Homo sapiens: one gene and its partners. The protein of the gene in region 1 interacts with the protein of each later gene in a biochemical or structural test. Each region holds a gene or a part of one and is shown on either strand. Other genes may lie near its edges.

Evidence for each region.
Region 2: the proteins of LSM11 (region 1) and CLNS1A form a complex in vitro, tested with the Homo sapiens proteins (one study listed by BioGRID).
Region 3: the proteins of LSM11 (region 1) and ZNF473 form a complex in vitro, tested with the Homo sapiens proteins (one study listed by BioGRID).

Annotation. Positions count from the first base shown.
Region 1 is NC_000005.10:157,739,727-157,746,740, reverse strand, and holds the start of LSM11 (U7 snRNA-associated Sm-like protein LSm11), read right to left. Parts: upstream 3,030-7,014; 5' UTR 2,991-3,029; coding exon 2,543-2,990; intron 1-2,542. UniProt on the Homo sapiens protein: Component of the U7 snRNP complex that is involved in the histone 3'-end pre-mRNA processing. Increases U7 snRNA levels but not histone 3'-end pre-mRNA processing activity, when overexpressed. Required for cell cycle progression from G1 to S phases.
Region 2 is NC_000011.10:77,613,993-77,620,868, forward strand, and holds the end of CLNS1A (methylosome subunit pICln), read right to left. Parts: intron 5,704-6,876; coding exon 5,636-5,703; 3' UTR 5,614-5,635; intron 4,696-5,613; exon of another isoform or gene 4,548-4,695; intron 2,704-4,547; 3' UTR 538-2,703; downstream 1-537. UniProt on the Homo sapiens protein: Involved in both the assembly of spliceosomal snRNPs and the methylation of Sm proteins.
Region 3 is NC_000019.10:50,035,939-50,043,049, reverse strand, and holds part of ZNF473 (zinc finger protein 473), read right to left. Parts: intron 3,890-7,111; coding exon 3,763-3,889; intron 2,029-3,762; exon of another isoform or gene 1,321-2,028; coding exon 1,231-1,320; exon of another isoform or gene 176-1,230; intron 1-175. UniProt on the Homo sapiens protein: Involved in histone 3'-end pre-mRNA processing by associating with U7 snRNP and interacting with SLBP/pre-mRNA complex. Increases histone 3'-end pre-mRNA processing but has no effect on U7 snRNP levels, when overexpressed.

The DNA of each region.
Region 1 (7,014 bases):
ACAGGGTTTCACCACGTTGGCCAGGCTGGTCTTGAACTCCTGGCCTCAAGTGTTCTGCCCGCCTCGGCCTCCCAAAGTGCTGGGATTACAGGTGTGAGCCACTGTGCCTGGCTACTTTTAAAATTTTATTACTGCAAGGAAAAGAATACAACTGCTCCACAAGGGAATTCAAAGAGATTCTATGACAGAGATACAAAGTGAAATATTTTACAGTTAAAACACCATTACACTTAATTTTGCACTCCTTGTTTTTTCATAAACATTCCACACTGTCCTCTCTGTGAATTTGGATGGGTAACTTGGATCTGAATTGATGAAATACATCATTTTAAAGTCAGCGACAAAATGTAGCTCCTCATGTATTCTTCATTATGTTTCACTGATGATATGACCTAACAAAGCTTCTTCTTGCTGTTACAGCCTGATGGAACTTACATTTTATGTGAATATTTTGCAAAGGATTATGCATTCTCAAATGCATAGGCATTTTTTTCCAGAAAGCATTTGTATATGTCCACAAATAGTATTATCTTACTGGTATCTATATTTTGATTTTCCTGAGCAACTGTATCCAATCAGAGTTTAGAGTAGGCATATATTTTTTTAAATTAAAACTGTGGCATACATATAAAACATACCTAGTTCTTTTTTTTCCCCCCTTCCAACTTTTGTTTTTGGATCAGGAGGTACACGAAAGGTTTGTTGCAGGTGTAAATCGTGTGTCACTGGGGTTTGGTGCACAAATTATTTTGTCACCCAGGTAGTGATCACAGTACCCAATAGGTAGTTTTGTGATTCTCACCCTCCTCCCACCCTTCACCCTCAAGTAGGAACTCTTTCTTGAATGAATCCAATCCTCACCCATGTTTCTGTTGTTTTCTTGCTTTCTGAAGGTCATCAACTCTGTGCGACGTCAATGCCTTTCTCTCATGTACACTCAACTGTCTGCAGTGCCATGGTGAAAATTTTCAGTATGTAGGGCATATTCTCTGAGATCTTGATTCCAGGGATATATACTTAATCATAAGAAGTTGACAAAGCTGGTCTTCACACACTGTCATACCATTACAGTAAAGTGCTCTATAGGGAAAGCTAAAACCACCCACCACATAGCAATACACAGGAATATTCCTTTCCCTTGACAATCTTGGTAGCAAAGCAATAACTGGTAAAATAGAAATAAATGTTGCAATGAGACTTGGAGTGCATTTCAACTACCTAATGGTGGCAAATTGCATAGGCAAATTAAGGTCCCCCAAACTGCTCTCATTTTGGGAACAAGCATACTGTCTTTGTGTTACAGCCAGGCAAGCAGGCCGGGGTAAATCCTAGCTTGGGCAGGGATGCTGTGGCATGGTAAGACATCCAACGAAGGCACACGGAACAGCACAGAGCGTTTCAGGATGTTCTCTCTTAATAAACAAATTTCTAGGAATGAAGCAAAACAGTCCCTTGCTTGGCACACCTCTCCATCCAAAAGACAGTGACTTAATAAGGTAACAATTTAATTATCAGGATACAGATGCTTTGAATGGCTAAGTAGGTCATTGTGTTCACAGGGCAGATGTCAGAACTGCTTGCCAGATGACAAAAGAGATAACCTTAGGCTGTTTTTATTCCATTTATACAAGACCTAACTCACACATTAGAGCCTCTGCTGTTTACAGCTTTACTCTAAGGATCTATGAGGAGGCTCCAAGAAATTCCCTTGTGCCATTTACACCTTTAGAACTTAAAATAACCTGCACATATGGTAATATGAGCCTGACAGACACAGTCCTGCACCCAGCCAGGCAGAGTGGCTGTAAAACAGCGTCTGTGTTTTAGTGGCATTCTGTGCCTGCTGCATTTCAGCACTTGTGACTTAGTAATGTGAACATATGTGTATCAAGACTCTGCAGCCCTTCTGCTTATCGCACTCGAGAAGGAGCTGTCAATGTACAGGGGTTATGGGATTATGCGCCTGTGCTATCTGAACAAATCTCCCCACACTCCATCCGATCATCCTCAAATCCCACTGACCAAATACTCTCCTTCCCCTAATATTGGCTGTGCGCTCCCCCACGTCTCCCGTTTTCCGCCCCACCTTACCTCTCACTGTGGTCTCTAAGACCTCTCATCACCTCTGTAGACGTCCCTATGATGTCCCCCAAACTCTGTAGCCCCGCCACCTCTCCAGGTCCTCCATCAATCCTGTAGACCCTCTCGGCAGGCTCATCACCTCTGTGACCCTTCCATGGGCCCCGATTACCGCTGAAGACCTTTCCCACGGCTTCTTATGACCACTACAGCCTTACCACTCTCCCTCTGTTGCTCCTACAGCCCCTTTTCTTACTCAGGGTGACCCTCCCCACGCCCTCATTACCCACATTACTCAAGCAGATCCACCCCATAGTCACTGATGATCCCCGCAAATTTTCACCAAGGCGCTCCCGCAATACGTGCAGACCCGCGCCCGGCCACCGCCGCCCCGCAGACGCCCCCTCGGCAGCCAGCTTCCGGACGGCGGCTGCCCCGCTTCCCGCCCGGCCCGCGGACTCACAGGGCATTCGCGTGAGCACGTTGCGTGGCGCCTTCCTGCTCCGACCCGGACCCCTCCGGCCCGCTCCTGCGGCCCCGTCCCCTTCCTCTTTGGCCACCATGAGACGGCGGAGGCGCTGGATGCGCTCGGGGTCCGGGGCGGGCGCGTCCGGGCGGCGACGAGTCCTGCCCGAGGGCCCGGGTGCGGCGGGAACCCCAGAGCCCGCGGCCGCGCCCCGAGCCCGCCCGCGCCCGCGCCCGCCGCCCCGGACTCCGGTCCTGAGGAAGCTCTCGTACTCCGCCACGTTGTTGAAGCAGGGGGCATTGGGGTAGGGAATGGGAGGCAGGCGGGGCGCGTACAGGGCCAGCAGCGGGTCGAAGCTGTCAGAGCTGACATCCAGCCGCGGGCTGGGCGGGCGCGCGGGGCTCCCGGCGCCAGCCGACCTCGCCCCCCGCTCCCGCTCCTCCATGTTTGAAAGGCCCGCAAGCCGAGGCCGATGGGAAGAAGGAACGAAGCCGCCAGAGGGCGGCACTGCGCAGCCGCGGCGCGGGGTTGCACTGCGCCGAAGCGGCCGCGGGAGGGCAGCACCTGTCCTCGTTCCACCCGGGCCGGGGGGCGTGGTACGCGGCTCCGACCAGCCCGCGCCTCGCACCGCCTCCTCCCATAGCTGACAGGTTAACGCTGTCGACTGCTGCTTGACCTGCTCCAGCGCAGTTTCCCCGTCTGTATCATTATCACTTAGGGTGTTTGTTAATACTCTGGGTTCCCCGGGAATGAGCTCGGGATCGCATCCTAGCTTGAGCTGGCAGGAAGCGTCTGGAGGAAGGCAATGAATGTCTCAGTTTGCTTCCATGCTGAGTACTACTGATAGGGTGGGAAGAATAGCCTATCTGGGCTCAAAGTATTTAGCGTGTTTCTCGTCTGAAATATGATATAAATAGCACCTACCTTATAGAACTGACCTCAGGATGGAGAGATACTGCCTACAGAGCTCATAATAGATGCATGTCAGCCAATACTGGGTGTCTGTCCTCCATTTCCTATACCCTGTGCATAAACAAATTTGTGCTTAGTATCAAAGAAAATTCATTATATCACTGTCTTTCTAAGCATTGCTAACCAATTGGAAGAAACGAAGATCCAGCTCTTGGAGGAAACTATGGAAAATTCCCAAGACCTGATCATACCACTTGCTACTTTATAGTCTCAGTTCGGCAAAATATTTTTTGGTTGATTTTAAAATGACAGTCTACTCTTCGCGGAAGGCCCAGATATAACCTTCTCATCCAGCAGAGCCAAAATGTTTCCACTCACCTACAGGCCACACATCACTTGCCCGTCACCACATTCTCAAACTGCCATCAACTAGTATTCTCTGTACTAGTTGCTTTGTGTACATTTCAGTTTCCTTAAGACTTAGGAAGTCCAAGAGAATACTGGAGAGTACCTTAGAGAGCAAGATGAAAATTAATATACAACTCTGAAATATACCTTGGGATGAATGCATACTACAGCGAAGACAAAACCATCAAGCAGGCCGGGCGCGGTGGCTCACGCCTGTAATCCCAGCACTTTGGGAGGCCGAGGCGGGTGGATCACGAGGTCAGGAGTTCAAGACCAGCCTGGCCAAGATGGTGAAACCCCGTCTCTACTAAAAATACAAAAAATTAGCCGGGCGTGGTGGCACGCGCCTGTAATCCCAGCTACGCTGGAGGCTGAGGCAGAGAATTGCTTAAACCTGGAGGGGCGGAGGTTGCAGTGAGCTGAGATCGCGCCACTGCACTCCAGCTGGGGTGACAGAGGGAGACTCCATCTCAAAAAAAAAAAAAAAACAAAAACCATCAAACAGTGGCTTCTAATTGGTAGCAGTACAGGTTTCTTTATGGCACAGGTTTTGAACCCAGCTTATCACTTTGTTCAAAACCCCCTGCCTGAATAAAAAACTCAAAGCTGCAGAATTGCTGGCAATTCAACAAATGAGCGCTCATCCCCACATCATATGGCAAAACTGAGTGATAGCCTTTATAGTGTCATTTAAGACCCACAGAAAGCACGTTTCTCTGGGTGGTTTTCTTGAAAATTTGTACTCTAATGCCTACTTGTATTTTGATATAAAATGCTGTCAACTTACCATTAAGTTAAAATTGCCAATCAACAGCTACATTATCTTACTTCCTTCCCACCCAGCCTATCACAGTATACCGAGGGCCTTGCTGCCGAAGCTGCTGTATATTGACAACCACACATATCAGAAGCCTTTGGGGCTAAAAATCAGATTGCTGGCTGGGCGTGATGGCTCACACCTGTAATCCCAGCACTTTGGGAGGCTGAAGCGGGCGGATCACGAGGTCAGCAGTTCGAGACCAGCCTGGCCAATGTAGTGAAAACCCCCGTCTCTACTAAAAATACAAAAATTAAGCCAGGCATGGTGGTGCGTGTCTGTAGTCCCAGCTACTCAGGAGGCTAAGGCAGGAGAATCACTTGAACCTGAGAGGCAGAGGTTGCAGTGAGCTGACAGAGCGAGACTCCATCTCAAAAAAAAAAAAAAAAAAAAAAAAGATTGTTGAGCTTCAAACCTTTCTGGGGGCTGGGAGGAGCCAAAAATGTGCATTTTAAACAAGCATTCCAAGTAATTTTTTTTTTTGCATCCAGAAGTTTGTGAACCACTGCTATGATGAGGGCATGTGTATCCTAGGCTACCCAGAGATATACACAAAAGTTAGATTTCATATAGTCTATTTGTCTAAGAAAAATAAATGAAAAAGCAGGCCAAAGGAGTTGACATCTTTATTTCTTTCCTCAAAGAGATTTTAGCAATTACCAAACAAGAACCGTATCTCCTCTTTCTGTGGAGTGAGAACAGGAAGGGAAAAAATGGCATCGACAGATGGGTTGTCAATTAGTGAGGGATGAGGCCAGCCATCACCCTTTCAAAAATACATTTTCTTCTTAGATGTAAATTCTGCAGTGCAAGACGAGGGACTGGGACACGGGCTGTCTCTTAATTTTTTTTTTTAAGGCAGTTTTGCTCTGTCACCCAGGCTGGAGTGCAGTGGCATGATTTCAGCTCACTGCAACCTCCACCTACCAGGTTCAAGCAATTATCCTGCTTCAGCCTTCTGAGTAGCTGGTATTGCAGGCACACGCCACCACGCCCAGCTAATTTTTCTATTTTTAGTACAGACTGGGTTTTGCCATGTTGGACGTGCTGGTCTTGGACTCCTGGCCTGAAGTGATCTACCTGCCTCAGCCCCCCAAAGTGCTGGGATTACAGGTGTGAGCCACCATGCCCAGCCATGTCTTTTTTTTTTTTTTTTGAGATGTAGTTTCGCTCGTTGCCCAGGCTGGAGTGCAATGGCACAATCTTGGCTCACCGCAACTTCCGCCTCCTGAGTTCAAATGATTCTCCTGCCTCAACCTCCCAAGTAGCTGGAATCACAGGCATGCACCACCATGCCCAGCTAATTTTTTGTATTTTTAGTAGAGACGGGGGTTTCTCCACGTTGGTCACGCTGGTCTCGAACTCCCGACCTCAGGTGATCTGCCTGCCTGGGCCTCCCAAGGTGCTGGGATTACAGACGTGAGCCACCGCACCCAGCCTCTTAATTCTTAATGGGGCCAAATAATCCTTTCCCTCCGAAATATAAAACCAGGACAAGAGAAAAATGTGAGTTCTCTCACCACCTATTCCCACTACCTTCCCCCTTCAGAGGCCAAGTTTGGCTGCATGTGATGATCCCTGCTGCTCTGTGCTGTTCCTCACCCATCTCCACTGACCCAACAGAAGGTGGCGCTATTAATATTATGCCTCCTCTGACACCTGCTACCTGTCGATTAGCAGAGGATGTTTACCCCTCTGCTCTTGAAATCAAATGTCATTTGTCTGATTACATAGAGGCTATGTGAGAATGTTTTTCAAGAAGTCTAATAGGAAAGTGACTTTTAAAACTGAAATGTCTTGAGTACATGGGGTAAATGTTTCTTCATCCTCATTCACGCATTCTTGTTTCTTTCTCTCATATATACACATAATTCTGTTTCTTCTTAGAAAGAGGTAAATGGCCTTGGCAACTATGCCCCTGGCTAGAAGATGATGATCATGCTGACAACTCCATTAAATCAATCCACAGAATGTGTACGCAAGGACACTGAAGCCACTACTCATTTGTTCAGCCAAAGTTGCCAACTTAGAGACTGGCACAAAGCCCCGAGTTTTCCCTGCAATTCCTGAATTCAGAGGCATCATGCAGGCATTAACCCATATTTATCTTGAGGTCTGCCAAAGACGAATGCAAGTAGATGGGTGGCAGAGGTGAGATTTTCAAAGTCAGTGGGTTTTCTGGTTAAGAACAGGTGGGCGAGAGTTTGGGCTCCTCTTCTCTCATAGATGAAAATAACTGACAGGTTTTTACAAGATTTATGTCACAATCTAAAAATGATTCATTCTCCAAGGCATGGAATAGTTCTTGCTTTATAAAAATAGTACTGCGATT
Region 2 (6,876 bases), on another chromosome or scaffold:
ACCTGTATATTATGATCATCTGCACATAATCTCTCACCTTTACCAATATTGAGGAAGCTCCTAACAGAACCTCAAAAATACATAACCACATAACCTTTTTTGATTTTTGAGATGGAGTTTTGCTCTTGTTGCCCAGGCTGGAATGCAACGGTGTGACCTCAGCTCACTGCAACATCTGCCTCCTAGGTTCAAGGGAGTCTCCTGCCTCAGCCTCCCAAGTAGCTGGGATTAGAGGTGCCCCACCACCACGCCCAGCTAATTTTTTGTATTTTTGTAGAGACAGGGTTTGACCATGTTGGCCAGGCTAGTCTGGAACTCCTGACCTCAGGTGATCGACCCACCTCAGCCTCCCAAAGTGCTGAGATTATAGGCATGAGCCACCGTGCCCAGCCCCTATAAAGATTTAAACAAGCTTATGGCCTCAGCTCACTGCAACCTCTGCCTCCTGGGTTCAAGTGATTCTTGTGCCTCAGCCTCCTGAGTAGCTGGGATTACAGGTGCCCACCACCATGGCTGGCTAATTTTTGTATTTTCAGTAGAGATGGGTTTTCACCGTATTGGCCAGGCTGGTCTCAAACTCCTGACCTCAAGTGATCTGCCCACCTGAGCCTCCCAAAGTGCTGGGATTACAGGTGTGAGCCACCACGTCCGGCTGGGACCATATCTTAATGAATACATTTTTTAAATGAAGAACCTAGAACAGAGAACCATTAACCCTAGCTTTTAGGAACATTTAGATGACTTACATTTTGGAGGGGAAATGTCTATGTACCTTTAAAGTGTCTCTACATCAGGAACACACAAAGAAAACAATTCCAGCAACCCTAAAATTAGGCTCAAATGAAATCAATAAATATTGTCTGGCTGATCATTATAAATTTTATCTTTTAAAAGCCTGACCTGCTCTTTTTTCTCAGCTTCTATTTTCTCAATGCTACGGTTCTAACTATCTAGTGAATGTTACAGCTCAATCTTTGAAAGTCACTTAGTCTAATGAGGAAATAAGCCCAGAGAGGTGCCCACATGCTTTGGTCTCCTGCCTTTTTGCATATTGCATTGACCACAGCAACACCAACAAGAAACCAAGTACACTCTGAATCTTCTCGACATTTTGCTATCAGAGCAATTTATGTTCATGGAAAGTCACAATTATAAATTTGTTCCTTTTAAAAGGAACTCAAATGGAATTTCTAATATTAGCCTGTGAGAATGTCCTGACTGATTACTGAAGAATGGACAAACTTCTAGGATAGAATTATGGGTGTTGCTCAGATGGGTAGCAGAGAAACTGGGGAAGCTCTTGTACTGGCCATTGAAATGTTAACACTGAAACCCTGCAGCAGTGGGGAGAGTGTGCATGCTTTCTGCTGCTGGTAGGTGGTAAGGCTGTATGATGTTTTAAAGCACAGGCTCAAAAATCACAATTCACTATCTACATGACCTTAAGCAAGTTATTTTACCTCTCTCTATAACTCAGTTTCCTCAACTATAAAGTGGGATAAAAGCGTATCTCATAAGATAATTAAGAATATTATAATACATAATAAAGAACTCAGGACAGTGGCTAGTACAGAGGTCTCAGTAAATTTTAGTTTCCATTTCAAGTGGCTGTTTTACTTGCCTATTGTTAACAGACTCAGAAATTCTGAGAGTCTGGTTAGAAAAAGGAAAATTCGTTTTTTTTCAGTCTACCTTGCAAGATAAGGGAAACCAAGTGACAGTGCTGAAATGAACACTGGGCTGAGTGGTACCAAACATCAGTTTAGTCACTAATTAGCCATGTGATCCTGTTAAGAAGGTTAGCTTGTATAACCTTATTTTTAAGGACACATAATGATTTCAAAAGTCCAAGTATAAATCAGTAATTACAAATCAGCCTTATAATACCCAGGTATCTATGAAAACTAAAAATTGAGAGTTGATAAATATAAGAAATTACTGCTGATCTAAAAGGAAGTGGCAGAAATCCCCTGAAATGTGTTAAATCTTTGCCTTACTAAATACTTGCCAGAAGCTATAACTATATTTTCTTATTAATTTCATGTTCATCTTCTCAACAAGTAAACAAAAATAAAGCCAACAAAATTCTCATATTTGCCAGCATTATTTTTTAAAAAACATTTCTCATTAATGGTTTTAGTCAAGAATGAGAGCAAAGTAATATAGAAAACCTAGGTTTATTTGTTAAGCTATTACAAAAACAAAACAATTACCATTTGAAGTACTTTGAGGACTTCATCCCAGACTCACTTGTTCTGTTACAGAAACTAACCTAAAAGGCTGGAAATTAAAGGATACAACCTAAGAGGTTATAACAGCAGACTGGTAAAACATGGCGAAAGGAGCTCTCTCTTTCCCCCGCAGTCTACCAAGCTCCTGTGCATTTTCACCACATAGATCTGCTAGCTTACAAATGATGCACACAGTCAAGGTAGGAATTATAGGCCTACTCAGAGGGTACCCAGACACAGAAAGTTTTAGGGTAAATAGTAAACTACAAATACCCTCTTGGTTAAGTTAATTCATCAAGTTAATAAAGGTCATATTATCTATCTTCTGCTGGTGACAACTTGTTGTCTCAGTATAGTCTGTCTCAAGAAAGAACTGGTTCAGGTTGGGTTTTGGAAAAGGAAAAAGACTTTCATTAACTTCACTCCAGAGTGGAAGAGGCACCAAGTTCTCTCCTACACTTAGGAGCAGAATCTGAAAAACAAAAGGTTTACAGTGTTTACAGTAGTGATAATAATAATAGCTACTACTTATTGAATGCCTAGTCACGAGTGCCAGAGGACTTAGGTACATTTTATCTTAGCCTCTGCAACAACCCTGCAAGGTAGGTATTATCCTCCCCATTTTACAGATGGGGGAAGTGAGGATTAAATAAGTTATATGCCTTGTCCAAAGGTGTACACAAGTATGTGGCAGAGTTGTGATTCCACGATTAACGTGCCGTCTCCACCCCACCTCATGCACTGAGAAGTCCTAGTTCCATTATCCTGAAATTATTAACAGTTGCATAAACTACTCTTAATTATTTATTCCTTATTCATTCTTTTAAAGCATGTACAATTTTAAATGATTAAAAATTTACACAGCCAGGTGTGGTGGCTCACACCTGTAATCCCAGCACTTTGGGAGGCCAAGGCAGGCGGATAACCTGAGGTCAGAAGTTCAAGACCAGCCTTACCAAACATGGAGAAACACTGTCTCTACTAAAATTACAAAATTAGCCAGGCGTGGTGGCACATGCCTGTAATCCCAGCTACTCGGGAGGATGAGGCAGGAGAATCACTTGAACCCGGGGGGGCGGAGGATTCGGTGAGCCGATTGCACCATTGCACTCCAGCCTGGGCAACAAGAGCGAAACTCCATCTCAAAAAAAAAAAAAAAAAAAAAAAAATTAGCCGGGTGTGGTGGTGGGCACCTGTAATCCCAGCTATTCAGGAGGCTGAGGCAGGAGAATTGCTTGAACCCGGGAGGCAGAGGTTGCAATGAACCAAGTTGCGCCACTGCACACCAGCCTAGGCAACAGAGCGAGACTCCCGTGTCAAAAAAAAAAAAATGTACAGACATTGTTCGGAATTCAGATCAATTATCCAGATGAAGAATATGTATAAACATTATACATAATGTTTATACATTATAAACAGGGTGCAGTGGCTCATGCCTGTAATCCCAGCACTTTGAGAGGCCGAGGCAGGCGGATCACGAGGTCAAAAGATCAAGACCATCCTGGCCAACATGGTGAAACCCTCTCTCTACTAAAAATACAAAAATTAGCCAGGCGTGGTGGCGCGCGTCTGTAGTTCCAGCTACTTGGGAGACTGAAGCAGGAGAATCGCTTGAACCCAGGAGACAGAGGTTGCAGTGAGCCAAGATCACACCACTGCACTCCAGCTTGGGCGACAGAGCGAGATTCCATCTCAAAAAGAAAAAAAAAAAAGAAAAGAAAAAAAACCGTTATGAATAAAATAATTCTCTGCCTCTGAGCTCTAGGATAAAATTAACAGAAAACAAAGCTCATTAAAAAGTTTGTGGCTATTTCACCATTAAAAAGAATCCTAAGAATTCTTGCCAAGGACTGCAGTAACATCCCATTTGTTTAACTGTTAGTGACATACCAAATGAGTTTCTCATGATTCTGATTAATAATAGAGTGGCTGATGTTCTCTGTATAGTCTATTCTTCAAAAGAAATATGTGAAAGCCCAAAGACCCAAAAATCTGTTTTCTAATTGCAATAAAACAGTTACTAAAACAAGTATCACTGAACTGAAAAAATTAATATGCTATAATGTGATGAGAAATAAGGAAAGAATACTGAAGTTGATATCAAAGGATTTCCCATGAAGTAGAACAGTGAAGTTACTGACAATTGGAACTGTGAGAGCTAAAAATCAAAGTTAACAGAGCTCCAGTGATGTGAACACATGATTTTAACAGAGAAGACATTGCTAATTTTAAACTGTATGGCTACCACTGACAAAAGTAAATGTGGAAATTAAAATTAAGTATTTAAGGGAAAATATAAATCATAGAACTCTAAGAGGTTATTTTCTGATAGTTCCACTGGCAGGATGTGAGAAGAAAGCACAGGTCCAGTATCACAATTCATGGTCAGTATAAGAAGCAATGTTATACAGTTTTCACAATAGCAGTAACTTGGAAGCTAACTGGAACTTTAAAAGGCTGGTTTCTGAAATGAAATAGAACAGGGGTAAAGGAATTAAAACTTGTAACTGGAGAAAAGCCAATGATTACAGAACTAGGTTCAGAACTAAAATCTGTATCAGAAGAAAAGAGAAGGAATTCTGAAATATTTATCATTGCAGGGAATAACAAAGGATCTTATAACTTAACTGGATGACTGACAGTGGTAGCAGAGTCAAGTCAAAACATATAAATCTTACCATGCTATTACTATATGCTTTAGTAAAATAAAAGGAGGCTAGCGAGAGCATCTCAAAGACTGGAGGATAGCCAGTATTCAAGAAAACAATGCTATAAGGTAGGAGGAAGTTGTAGTGGGGAGACAGGGACAACAATTTAACAACAGCTTATAAAGGACTACTACAATTACTGGTTCTAGCTCTGTATGATATGAACATGACCTTCAGTTATTATCTAACATATAGTTGAAATACTTAGGCTGGCAAAGGACAATATATTTCTCAGAATAATGGAGTAGCAAATAAATTGTCAGGAACAATCTGAGGTTTAAAAGAAGAAAAATTTTTTTAAAGAAGGAAAAAGAAATAGGCCAGATACAGTGGCTCACAGCTGTAATCCCAGTACTTTCGGATGCCGAGGAGGGAGAATCATTTGAGGCCAGGAGTTAGAGACCAGCCTGGGCAACATGTGAGACCTTGTCTCTACGTAAAATTTTAAAATAAGCTGGGTGTGGTAAGCATGTGCCTATAGTCCCAGCTATTTGGGAGGGTGAGGCAGGTGGATTGCTTGAGTTCAAGGCTGTAGTGAGCTAGGATCATGCCACTGCACTCTAGCCTGGGTGACAGAGTAAGACCCTGTCTCAAGAAAGAATTTTAAAAAGTAGAAAGTAATCATTTCATATGATTTTCATGATCAGCGACAAGGGAGAAAATGAACTACTCACCTTAAACTTGCATAAATCATTTTCAGTGATCAACATCTGCATCCTCAAACTGTCCAGCAACTGTTGGTGTGGTATCCACCTCCATCCCATCTAAACAAAAAAATTAATTACTGAGCAATCCCTATGAACACTTCAGACAGGTAGATTCAACTTATAACTTCTACCAGAAGGAAGCTAGTGCCCTCTGCTGGTAAGAATTGCTTTTTCCTCTTTTTGGAAAAGTCTGAAGGGACAAACTGAGAAAGAAAATGCTACCTGGGGATTTAGGCCACATCAAAATCAGTCTGCGACACTAACTGTGTAAATTCTCACCCTCAATACTAAAATAACTCTATGTAGGAACTTTCAAATGCAGTATCAATTGTTCACCCTTTACAGATCTAAGTATTTACTGTTAGGCTTTTTAAGGTATACAGCCCTATCCTCACAAAGTGAAAAGACAAAAATCAGTACAGCAAGCTTTTTGCTTATTTCCCTGTTTTTGTCATCTCATTAAATAAAAGGTGGGGAGGGAACAAGAGAAAAAAAACAAGAGCCCTGATATGGTTTGGCTGTGTCCCTACCCAAATTTCATCTTGAATTCCCACGTGTTGTGGGAGGGATCTGGTGGGAGGTAACTGAATTATGGGGGCAGGTCTTTCCCGTGCTGTTCTCATAATAATGAGTAAGTTTCACTAGATCTGATGGTTATATAAGGGGGAGTTTTCCTGCAAAAGCTCTTTTTGCTTGCTGCCTTCCATGTAAGATGTGATTTGCTCCTCGTCTTCCACCACGATTGTGAGGTTTCCCCAGCCATATGGAACTGTAAGTCCAATGAAACCTCTTTCTTTTGCTAATTGCCCAGTCTTGAGTATGTCTTTATCAGCAGTGTGAAAACAGACTAATACAAGCCCCACGGAAAGAGTTGTCTTGGCCAGGCACAGTGGCTCACGCCTGTAATCCCAGCACTTTGGGAGGCCAAGGTGGGTGGATCACCTGAGGTCAGGAGTTTGAGACCAGCCTGGCCAACATGGCAAAACCCCATGGCGAAATCTCTAACAAAAATACAAAAAAATTACCCGGGCATGGTGGCAGGCGCTTATAATCCCAGCTACTCGGGAGGCTGAGGCAGGAGAATGGCTTGAACCAGGAAGGTGGAGGCCAAGGCAGGCAGATCACCTGAGGTCAGGAGTTAGAGACCAGCCTGGCCAACATGGTGAAACCCCGCCTCTACTAAAAATACAAAAATTAGCCAGGCATGGTGGCACATGCCTGTAATCCCAA
Region 3 (7,111 bases), on another chromosome or scaffold:
TCCATCATCATACCTTTTCCAGCCTGTCCCTTGTGCAGTTCTTGGCTCACCATCTGAGTATCTATGAGACTGCTTAAAGTCTCTCTGCCTGGAATTAAAACTTGCAAATGAAAGCCTTCTGAAACCACATCTTGTTCTGAATTGTCACCTTTGCCTCTGCTCATCTCTCCCACAGATATCCAGCTCACTCTCCTCACCACACTTGTGCTCATGTTGTTCCCTCGGCCTCAAATGCACCAACAGACATGTAATAGGCACCCCTTATATGCCAAGCATGATGTCAGGAGCTGGGAATACAGGGTGAATCAGCTAAGCCCTGCTTCCAAGAGCGGCATGCTGTTAAAGGGGAAAGACGCTTATGTGGTAACTATGCAACTCAAGTGTCACTACTAGAGGATATGGAGGTATATTTGTTAGTAAAGGCATGGCTACCTATGTTTGGAAACAGCCAATATGCTGAGGTGACAGAAACAGAAAGCAGAAGTTGTGAGAGCCTGTGCATGAGTTAGTCACCTATGAGGAACACTGATGTGCTGAAGAGGAGGCTGCAGAGGCCTCATGTACACGAGCCTGAGCGTGGTGAGCCAAGAAGGGAGCTGCAGACTGACTGGATGGGGTACAGCCTGAGATTCCTGTGGTCTCTGGTTCAGGGCCCTGCTTCTCATGCTGGGGACGTCTCTACCATGGGTAATACCCCAGGAATCCTCACCACCTAACCTGATCCACCTGGAGGAACCCCGGCTTGGGAGATGGCAGGGCAGATGCTCTTGGCAGCATTCAGGCCTGGGCTTAAGTTACTCCCTGATGTGGCCATCTGCTATGCCCCAGGGATAGGAAGGAAAAATGGGCCTGAAGGAAAGGAGGTAAAAGAAGTAGAATGAGGGTCAACACACTCAGGGAGCACAAGGCAGGAAAGTAGAGAGACCAACTGAGAGAGTGGAGGGCGTACCCTTGTTGAGTCTGGAAGGAAAGAGGAGGAGCTGTGGAGAGGCACCAGGATAACCCTGTGCTGAAGGGCAAGGTAGAGAGACCCCAGAGTGAGGGTCTATAAAAATGTCCTGATCCCCCCAGCTCCCAGGACAAGGGGATGGAAGCCAGCGAGAAGCAGAGTGAAGTCCTGAAGCTGAGCGTTGTAATGTCTCGGTAGACCTGTGGGAAAGCTGGCTGCAGCCTCAGGATGGAGGTCTGGAAGACAGAAGGTACACAAGGGGCCCCTCTCCATCCACTCACCAGGGCTTGTTGCTTCTGGGCTTCCTCCTGCCAGAGGCTCCAGATCTTCACTGCCATCTGGGTGGGAGGTCAGGTTGGGTCTTGGGGGGTCTGCAGGGAGAGAAAAGCATTGTCACCCAACCAGGACATGGAGGACCATCCAGACACTCAGTGAGAACCTCCTGGCTCTCCTGACTTTTCTATGCTTTATCCTGCACGTGGCTCCTGTGTGTGGACGAGGTGCTGCACTGGGCGACTCTGGGGATGCCTGTCCTGTAGGGTTCCCAGTCCAGTGATGGAGAGGGAGCCAAACAATCACAATCCAGGGTGATCAAAGCTGTGACAGCTGGGGCTGGGGATACAAAGGACTTGTGACAGCTCTTTAATGGGCAGGATCTGCCAGGTGGAGAGGCACGTACTTCCTTAGCCATTCATGATTTATTCACTGACCCATGGGCCACACATTGCCTGAGGCCTCCATGGGCCAGGGACAGAAAATGTCAGGGTCCCAGAGCCCAAGCAGTCCTGAGCCATACCCTCCACAAGCTTCCCCAAGGAAGGGAACAGAGTCACCATCCAGGAGGGATACAGGCCACAGCGGAGAAAACGCCACTGCTGTCTTTGAAGACTGAGAAGCCATGAGTCAAGCAATACAGGTGACCTCCAGAAGCTGGCAACGGGCCAGGAAGGACTATCTACGTGCTGGAGCCTCCAGAAGGAACATGGTGGCCCTGCCAACACCTCGCCTCCAGCCCAGCCACATGCATTTGGAACTCCTGGCCTCCAGGACTGTAACATAATAAAAGTGTGCTGGTGGAAGCCACTGTGTTTGTGGTATGTGTAACAGCAGCAATAGGAAACGGATACACTACTCATACATTCACACAAATGGGTGAAGGGGCAGTCGAGGTAAACACACTTCTTACTGTGGGCTGTAGTTTAAAAATTCAAAAAGACACTGAGGTAGGACCTCCCACGAGATGCTTCTTAGCACACACTGGCCAGTCTGGAGAAAGTCTGCCCCAATGTGATGAGATTCTATCAAATGATAGTTTCCACCGTGTGTTATCTTTTACTTCTTTCATCTTTTGGAGTAAATTATTTTTCTGGTTCTTCAAAAAGAAAGAACTGAGGCAACAGAGAGGGAAAATGAGTTAATCAGGTGACACTGATGGGGAGCTGGGGTGATATGGCCTTGGAGCTGCACAGACCTTAGCTGGAGTCTGGGCCCTGCTGCTGTCTCACTGTGTGACACTGGTGTGCAGAAGAGGGCGACACAGCAGGCTGGCTGCTCTCCTGGGAAAAGCCTGCTGGCAAGGCTGGATTTCAGGGGGGTACCCCGTGTCTCCAGAACTGAAGAGACACGCTCCCTGGACCTAAACTGTGCAAACACGGTGGCTTACACCTGCTTTCCTTCTGGGGGGCTGGAATTTTGGAATGTGCCAGGCAGAGGAGCCCACATGACCAGCCCCCAGTAAAAACCCTGGCACTGAGTCTCTGATGAGCTTCCCTGGTGGACAGCATTTCACACGCGATATCACATTCTACAGTATTGCTGGGGGAATTAAGCATGTCCCATGTGACTCCCCTGAGAGAATTCTGGAAGCTTGTGCCTGGCTTCCTTGGACTTTGCCCCATGTACCTCCTCCCTTTGCTGACTGTGCTCTGAATCTTTTCACTGTAGTAAGTCATAGCCATGAGTCTGACTACAGGATGAGTCCTGGGAATCCTAGCCAATCACTGAATCTGTGGGTGCTCCTGGGGACACTGACACAGCTGGGAAGGTGACTGCCACTCTTTTAACCTCAGTTTCAGACCAATCGGCAAAAGAGGGACAACCCAGCTTCTTCATGGGGTGACTGGAGGATTGAACAAGCAAGTCCTAAGAGCTGCTACTCAATCATTCATTAGTTTAGAGCTGTCTGCTGGGCCCTAGAGCAGGTACTGTTCGTTCCAAACACTGGGGACACGCCCTGTCCTCACACAGCTCCCGCTCTGAATGATACAATGGTAGTTAGAACGTGAGGGAGCGACAGACAAGATGAGTAGGAGAGGAGGTATGGAGTTCTAACAGGGTCCCAGGTTAAACTTTAAAAATGTAAGCCCTGAGAGCCGCTTAGGCAGAGGGGAGGGCAACTGGAAGACTTTGAAGTATCAGCTTGAAGAATGACTGACTACAAGTAGGAAAGTGGTGAAGACAAGGCTGGGGAGGCAGATAGGGGCCAGAGCAGGGTTTCCCAGGCTTAGCACTACTGACACTGGCGTGGGCCAATCCTTGGTTGTGGGGCTGTGCTGTGCACTGTAGGATGTGTGGCAGCCTCCCTTGGTTCCACCAGCTAGATGCTAGCGGCACGCTGCGCTGGCCCAAGGAGTAACAATCAAAAATGTCTCCACACATTGCCAATGTCTCCTCGGCCAGCTGAGAACTGCTGGGCTAGGTCATGCTGATTCTGAGGAGCCCAGGAGCCAGGACTTCACCCTGTGGGTGGTAGAGAGCATGGGTGATCACCAAGCAGGGCAGTGAGTAGGCCCCTGGGGACAGGCAACACTCACCCAGCAGGAAGAGGTCCTGGCAATTGTCCAACGCTGTGTCCCAGAACGTGTCCCCCTGTTCCAGCCCGAGCTGCTCCCAGTCTCCCAAGGTGAAGTCCATGCCGACATCCTTGAGGGTCACAAATTCCTGAAACACAGTACACTATTGGTCACTCAGAGGCTGGGGTCAGGGAGGAGCCCAACAGCTCACTCAGGGCACTCCCAGCCCTCAATCTGCCAGGGCTTTGGCAAAAACCATCCCATCCTCAGCCTCACAAGAATCTTGAGATGTAAGAGACTGGAAACCCCTGTATTTTGTAGGCAAAGAAAAGGACCTTGACTTTGACCAGGGGACAGGATGTCAACCGAAGTTAACACAGGTGGGACTGAACCCAGGTCTGCCTGATCCTAAAAATCTATTTTACGCTTTTGCTTTAAGTGTTCATTCAAGACTTATTTTGTAAACTTTCAAACATACATACAAGTAGAGATGTATATAATTAACACCCATGAACTCATCACCCAGGGGTCATCTGATTTCACCTGTGAATACTTCAGTATGAACAGTAACTCCTTAATCACTGAACACCTAGACCACATTCAAAATCTGTATACAGATTAGTCTGACATCTCAGTGGTGTGTCTTTATAGCTAGCTCGTCTCAATCAGAATCCAGGGGGCCCATACCCTGTAACTGATGTGGTTCTGAGGTTTTGAAATCTACAGCTGTACCGCTGTGCCTTCTACATCCTCCATGCTCCTGATTTGAGGTCCCATGTTCTGAGTGTGGCAAGCTGCTTCCATGCAGTGTCACCTGGCTGCTCCCTGGCCACGCATTTCCTGTGAGCTGGTCAGGAGAGCAGAGGCCTGACTGGAGTCAATACAGCTTCTGGGGGAAAGACCCACTCACAGGTGGTACCAGGTCCGCTTTAGGTACCAGGTCCGCTTGGGTAACACATGGTTACCCAAGGCTCCTATCTGGTTGTCCAACTTTTAGTGATGCCATCTTTCATTTTAAGACTTTCCTAGTTAATAAGTGTTTATTATTATTTATGTGTGTGTGCATGTATATATTAAATTTTATTTTATATATAATTATATATATAATTTATAAATTTATAAATTTATAAAATTATAATTTATAATTTATATATGCACCTGTAGTCCCAGCTACTCAGGAGGCTGAGGTGAGAGTATCACAGGAGCCCAAGGAGGTCGAGGCTACAGTGAGCTGTGATCGCACCACTGCACTCCACCCTGGGGGACAGTGAGACCCTGTCTCAAAAAAAAAAAAAAAAATTTTCTACTATTTGGCTAGTCAGCGGTAGAGTTCGTATAGGACAGGTAGGGTAAATGCTTGACTCTCCTTTTATTTGCCAGTTTTCACTATAAGGAATTGGTTTCCTTCTGTCGTTTGTAAGTTATGGTAATTTATAAATCTGGTAATCCATAAATTATATATATTATATATACAGAGAGAGAGAGCGAGCGAGAGAGAGAGAGAGTGTCTCACTCTGTTGCCCAGGCTGGAGTGCAGTGCCACGATCATAGCCTCCACCTCCTGGGCTCAAGCAATCCTCCTGCCTCAGCTTCCAAGTAGCTAGGACTACAGGCTTGTGCCACCAGACCCAGCTAATTTTTTTTTTTTTTGGTAGAGTAGGAGTCTTGCCATGTTGCCCAGGCTGGTCTCGAACTCTTGGCCTCAAGTGATTCTCCTGCCCCTGCCTCCTGAAGTGTTGGGATTACAGGCATGAGCCACTGTACCTGGACAGTTAATGGATGTTTAGGATAAAAATTCAAATACTTGAGAAGTACCAACATTAAAACGTGAAAGCCTGCCCCCACACACCCCATCTCTAGGTGAAACCATGACTGATGTGTCTCTTCCAAATCTCCATCAGTGTGGGCACAGGCACATTTTAAGAAAGAATGAAAACCACCTCTCTTTAGTTTGGGTCTGAGGTATGGCCCTATTACCTTCCCTTTATGAGTGACTATTGGCAAGTAAGCTGCATGTCTCTTGTGACCCCAATTCCTGCTCCCCTAGTGAAATGGGACCAACGAGTCCCATCTCATCAGGGCTGCTACAAGAAGCAACTGAAATACTGCTGGGAGGTGACTGCATAGTACTTAGCACACAGGAAGAGCTCGACAAAGGGGCAATTCCACTCTGGCTTACACTGCCCATCCCAACCCTCCAGGCATCTGACTGCAAAAGCCCTTCTTTGGCCAACAGCTTTCTGCATGCCGGCAATGGTTCAATGCTTTAGGTGCAGTGAGTCACTGAACTGCCTGACTCCTCTTTGAGGCAGGATTATCCCCAACTTATAGAAAACAAAATCAAGGCCCAAATAGTCACTTTCTCCAAGTTACACAGTGTATTAGTCCATCTTCTGTTGCTATAACTGGGTAATTTATAAAGAAAAGAAATTTGTTTCCTATAGTTCTCGAGGCTGGGAAGTCCAAGGCCAACAGACTGCCTCTGGTGAGGGTCGTCCTGCTGGTGGAGACTCTACAGAGCCCTAAAATGGCACAACGCATAACATGGTGAGGGAACTGAAGCAATGTCAAGCTGGCTTTTACAACAGACCCACTCTCATGATAACCCATTATTCCATGAATAAATGAATTCACTCACACAGGCAGAGCCTTCATGACCTAATCATCTCTTAAAGGCCCCACCTTGGCCGGGCGCAGTGGCTCAAACCTGTAATCCCAGCACTTTGGGAGGCCAAGGCAGGCGGATCATGAGGTCAGGAGATCGACACCATCCTGGCTAACACAGTGAAACCCCGCCTCTACTAAAAATGCAAAAAAAAAAAAAAAAATTAGCTGGGCATGGTGGCGGGCACCTGTAGTCCCAGCTACTCGGGAGGCTGAGGCAGGAGAATGGCATGAACCTGGGAAGCAGAGCTTGCAGTGAGCCAGGATTGCGCCACTGCACTCCAGCCTGGGTGACAGAGTGAGACTCCATCTCAAAAAAAAAAAAAAAAAGGCCCCACCTCTTAATACAGCTACATTAGGGATTAAATTTCAAGGAGTTTCGATTGGTGGGGCATGGTGGCTCATGCCTGTAATTCCAGCACTTTGAGAGGCTGAGGCGGGCAGACTGCTTGAGCTCAGGAGTTTGAGATGAGCCTGGGCAACATGGTAAAACCCCCATCTCTACCAAAAACACAAAAAGATTAGCTGGGCGTGGTAGTGCACACCTGTAGTCCCAGCTACTCGGGAGGCTGAGGTAGGAGGATCACTTGAGCCCAGGAGATGGAGGTTCCACAAGCCAAGATCACACCACTGCACTCCAGCCTAGAAAACAGAGTCTCCCTCTCAAAAAAAAAAGAGTTTCAAAGGGGACAAACATTCCAACCAC